Linked DNA regions of Homo sapiens: region 2 is linked to region 1. Evidence: fine-mapped expression QTL. Tissue or cell type: tibial artery. Region 1 holds a variant in brackets; the other region holds the start of a gene. All regions are shown on one strand. Distances are from middle to middle.

Region 1 (2,759 bases):
GAATTTATCATGTAGTTGGGGTACTAAGACATAAGAGAAAATAATAAAGAAAAACAGGAGCGGCCGGGCGCGGTGGCTCACGCCTGTATTCCCAGCACTTTGGGAGGCCGAGGCGGGCGGACAGCTTGAGCTCAGGAGTTCGAGAACAGCCTGCGCAACATAGCGAGACCCCCGTTTCAAAAAACACACGAAAAAATTAAAATTAAAAAACAAACAAACCAGGCGCAGAGCGGTTGTGGAGAAGGGAAGCGAAGGGTTGGAGTTTCGTTTCGTGGGAACCATAGAGAAGGGCCAGCCTCCCGGCTTCCTAGAGAGGCTGTAGGGACCGACGGCCGGCCAGCTAATGCTTCCGTCTTGGCCACCTTGCGAGCGCTCGGGTTGAGTTTCCCGGGCTTCCCTGACTCGGCTACCTGTTCTGGAGGTCAGGCTTTGGGCCCTTGCAGAGGTCGCCGAGGGGCCCGCGCCGCCGCCAGAGCCTGGGCCCAGTCCCCAGTCTTCAGAGACGCCCTCGACCTTCCTGCTCCGAGGAGCTGGCCTGATGTCCTCGGGTCGCGGTATTCATGGGGAGGATGGGAGCCGTGACTATAGGGTCTCCTGCTTCCCAGGGTGGAGCGTTCAGATCCCGGTTAGGTCTTCGGTCAGCATCACCCGCTGGGACATTAAGCGTCTTACCCTTGTCACCCGGGGCTGGGTCACCACTTATATTTTGTCCTGCAGCCTGTGGTTTGTTTAGGGGTCCCCGTTATATCCTACTTTCTCTCCAGAGACTTGTTTTGGGTTTTTGCCATGAACACTAGAAGCATTCAATACAAACTGTTTAGTAATGCATTCATAGTGGGGCCAAGAATTTTTTTTAAAAAACAGCCACGAATCCACTGCAGTTCTTGACTCTTACTTTACAGATATTCTTTCTAGAGTTTCCAGTGTCACCAAGCAGATCTATAGGAGAATATGCAGAGGGAGCATTTGCAACATCCCATGAATCAGTGGAGAGGGTGAATGACAGCAGCTAGTGTGCCAAGAATATCTGCAATGCTAGTGGCAGGAGACAGAGGGGAAGAGGCGGCAAGTGTAGGAGACGAGACAGATCAGTCTCATTGTGGTTCTCTCTTAGCTCCGCAGGTTCTTACTTTTTCAAACCTAGAGGGCAGTGCATGAAGCCAGGGGTCATCAGCCATGCTCCAGACAGTGTGGTTCCAGGTGAGCAGAGCTTTCTTTCAGCTTTCCATACTCAGAACAGATATGGAAGGTCAGTACAGCCCCAGTAGCCTGACTTGGCCAGTCTCATGCTTAGTTTTACATCCTTCAATAAAGTATGTAAAAACAGTATGCGAGGGGAGTTGACGAACGAGAGTAGGTGAATTTGGGAGAGTCAGGTAGGTTGGAAAAGAAGGAATGAATTATCCTAGAAAGTGGGAATCT[G/A]CATTCATGAGAACTGAAAGTGTGGCCTGGAGATGAGCAGCTTTTGCATTACAGAGGGCTCTTGTTAGGCAAAATGTCAGGCCCCCTCCCCAGATCTCCTAAATCAGAATCTACATTTTTACAAGATCTGGAAAATTAAAGGGCAGATTAAAATTTGAGGAGTGCTAGTCTGCGTTCACAGTACACAAAGAAAAGCCATTTCTGAGGTTAAATAGACACTTCCAAGGGAGGAGTTTACCCTGCAGACCACTCAGTTAAGGTACAGTGAAGCCAGAACTGGAAACATGTGGAAAATGTAGATTGATGAGGGAGATGTATTTTTGGAGGAATGATGAGTTTGGAGCTGAAGCCAGTGCCTTTAGCTCAATGCGAAGACGTCAGTCTAACCTCTGTGAGAGTCTATATCCTTTCTTGGCTACAAATTCATGTAGCATTGGGAGGACTTTTCCCTCCAGTTTTCTTGGTGGTAGATGATGGTTTTACTGGATTTTTCTCCAGTGTCCTAGATCATGGAATGAGAAAGCTGAGTTTATCATGTAATGGATGTATCTTGTAATGAGAAAGCTCCATCCCAAGGACTTAAAAACAATGTGTGTGTCCTTTTGGTGGATATTGGACCATCCACTTCTGTTCGAGAACTTCAGCAAAAATTCATTCCTACAAGTCAGGAAGTGTGCTGTGGGGGTATGCTGTGCTCTCCTGGTGCTTTGCCTGAAGTACAGAAATCACTTAGGATTAGATTCCCCAAAGAGGACCCCAAATGACAGTGGATTAAACGAGGTAAAGGCTTCTCTCTCATACAAAAGTATCAAGAGTCAATACAGGGCTAGTGTGGCAGCTCCCCTATTATGCTCTCAGGCTCTGTCTTTCTGCTCTACCATCCTAGCAGTGTCTCACCTGCTCTAGGCCACTTTATTGTCCAAGGTGGCTGCTTGATCTCTAGCCATCATGTGTGCATTCCAGCTAGAAGAGGAGCTGCCCAAAAAAAGATGAACCTCTCTCTTTTAGGAACCTTCCCATAAGTCCCCAACAATATTTATACTTGCATTTCATTGGCCCCACTTGGTTGCCCGGGTTGAGTGCAACCTCAAGTAAAATTAGGATTCCAATACTAAGAAAGAAAGGGGGTACACACACACCTGTCAGTCTTTGCTACAATCTCTAAGAGGAACATTTGTCATTTAGAATCTTCTAGGAAGTTCCCCCAATCTCATCTGTGGTTGTAGTAAGTGCTGAGATTTAGATGATATCATGTGCCAGGTGATATCTTCGTGCGTTACAGATAATAACTTAATGCCATTCTTGTAAGAGTCCTTTCAGATAATTACTATTGTTAT
Region 2 (2,610 bases), 91 kb before region 1:
AATTAGTGGATTTCTAGGAGAAAGCAGGCTATGGCAGGGTATAGCCAGGGACTCAGCTCTTCCTTCCAGACATGCAGGAACCATAAGGAGGGATGGTCAAACAGGGCCTGCTTAGGCCTCTTGCTGGGATCACTCCAAGGGTCTCTGGGGTCACTCAGAGGAGCCGGGAGGCTGCCTGCTGCTGTACACTGAGACAGACTCCTGGGGTGTTTGGATCACGGCAGCCCACATGCTGCCTTTTTGTTATCTTTTCTGTTTTGCCTCTTCCGGGCTGTACTTGTCTTGAGTTTTTGGCCTTATGACATCCATATTAAATGGGGTAGGGCAGAGCATTGCTCAGTAAACAGCAAGAATGGCCCTGGGCATGGCCAAGGCAGTTCTGCTAAGTGTGAAAGGGAATGTGCCTGCCATACTTTGTGCTTTAGGCCCAAGTGACCTAGGGGCCAGCCTGCCTACTGGCCTCACTCCCAACATTACAGGTGTTTGACTCTACTCCACCCCGTGGAGAGACGGAGCACAGGAGCCACCCACCGGGGGACCACATAAGGTCATGCACACCCACAGAGTGCCCAGTCCCTGCCTGGCCTTGTCCCCATTTTCCCTCCACCTAGGGTTGGGGTGACAATGGAGGTAACTAGAAGACAGATCAAAAGGTTCTTGGTCTTGACACAGATGCAAGAAGGAGGCAGATAATAGACACCTCCCTTCCCCCTCGCCCACATAGGCTCCGGTGGGTTCTCAGGGCAAGGCCTGGCTCCCTCCTCTCCGACTTCAGGTACAGGTGAGTGTGGAGGGAACTGAAAGAGGAAAGGTGAAGTGCTGTTTGGCTTCGACCTGGAGGGGGACAGAAGGCTCTCTGGGCAGGCAGGGCCGGTCTTTTGGCAAGAGGCGCGCTCTCTCTCCCTTCCCCTTCCATCGAGGGCTGGGTGTGAAGGTGAGAGCAATCAGAAAAGAAGGTGAAGAGGTACTTGGCCTTGACACGGACGGGGGGGGCGGTCCCAGGCCGAGGCCGCCCCGCCCCCGCCCCGCTATACCCGGCGCCGCCTCCCGGCGTCTGAGCTGACACCTCCTTAGCGCTGGCCGCGGGCCGCCTCTGCGGCAGCGCTAGTCGCCTTCTCCGAATCGGCTCCGCACAGGTAAGATCAGGGGACCCGGCGCCTGAGCTGCCGAGGAAGGAGTCGGGGGTGCTGCGTGAGACTGAGAGTTGGGAGGCAAAGAAACAAAATCGGATTTCCTCAGAGGGCCAGAGGAAGAGACTGAAACACGGTAGCCCCAAATCCTTGGGCGGCTGGGAGGTGGTCCCTGTCATGCCCACGACGGGTGGGCGCGTCTTTACCGACAGCCTGCATGGATCCGCAGATGTGCTGGGCGCTTAGATGCCTGCGGCTATGCAGAGACGCAGTCCAGAGAGGTGACCCCAGATCCTGGTGGGGGCTGGATCCCAGGGCCCCGACATCCCTTTGCAATTTCCAGCCAGCAGCTAAAGACTCCCTTCCCGGGGCTTTAGAGAGGCTCCAGGCTCGCGATCCATGAACACACAAAAACCTTCCTTGCTCATGTTCTGAAAAAAAGCCCCGCCTCAGCTTTGTGAATGTTAATAATAGGGGGAAGATTTGTTCTCTCTTGGGTGTGTGTACAGGTGGAACAATCTGCAGAAAAAGACCTTTTTTCGGAAAACCTTTTCAGTTTGAAGTTTCAGCAAATCCATTTTTCATTTCCTTTCATTTGGGGAGATGACATGAAATTTAAGCTCCAGCTTTGGGGCTGTCTCTGAAGTTCTGGGGTTCGGCTTACCTTTCCCGGGATGAGGTTTTGATTTGGAGGAAGTAAAATGGGTTTTGTCTTAACCTGGGCTCGTTCTTTAAACTTGTGAGGCCGGGGCGGTGGACTTACTGACATCCTGTATTCTCTCACCTGCAGCTAGGAGAAAAGATGTTCACTGTGCTGACCCGCCAACCATGTGAGCAAGCAGGTTAGTATCTCTCAGCAGGTAGCAAGCGTGGTTTTGCCAAATCGCAAGAGAACCCCAGCTTCGGCCTACAGTTTTTCATCCATATCCCCTGCAAATGATTGTTTAACTTTATTGGTTTGAGACTCAGTACTCAGCTGGGTTTCAACACCGGCATTCCTCAAATAAAAGTAATGCTTTTCATCAAAGCCACACAAAACAAGGACTAACATGCATGTTTCACTTAAATGGTTTTTCCGGTTTGTATAATCCATTAATTTGGCCCTTGTGGTTTCCCTTAGCTAGCTGTGTGTAACGTTTGCTTTAGAATACTGTATTGTTGATTTTGTGATCAATTGTACAGTACTTGGATCTTTCCTGTATTCCCATCCAAATGTTGCTGGCACAGTGCCTACAACACCCCCACCCCTCACTGTGAGTCAGTGTTGTTATGGTTGATACTGCAGGCACAAGTGCAGGATTTTCTCACACTGGAAGGCACACACACACAGACACACACACACACACACACACACACACACACACACACACTTCTAAGCTTGCCCCGCCTGCCTCTAGAGCACTTTTTGGAGTTGCTCATGTGGAAGCCCAGAAGGCTCTGGCTTCTCCAAGCTCAGGTAGGTACCTTGCAATTACCATGT

Evidence for each region. PIP is the estimated chance that this variant, and not a neighbour inherited with it, causes the effect.
Region 2: it holds the start of ENTPD3, and the variant in region 1 is fine-mapped to the expression of ENTPD3 in tibial artery (GTEx, PIP 0.91).

What each region holds. Positions count from the first base shown.
Region 1 is chr3:40,476,804-40,479,562 of GRCh38, forward strand. It overlaps ZNF619 (zinc finger protein 619), which reads left to right and starts at 319. Exons shown (of 5, transcript NM_001145093.4): 1 at 319-554; 2 at 1,115-1,200. The coding sequence starts at 1,177. RefSeq lists an enhancer at 493-632. The variant G/A (reference allele first, on the strand shown) is at 1,423.
Region 2 is chr3:40,386,126-40,388,735 of GRCh38, forward strand. ENTPD3 (ectonucleoside triphosphate diphosphohydrolase 3) reads left to right here and starts at 1,059. Exons shown (of 11, transcript NM_001248.4): 1 at 1,059-1,136; 2 at 1,921-1,972. The coding sequence starts at 1,933. RefSeq lists a silencer at 980-1,079.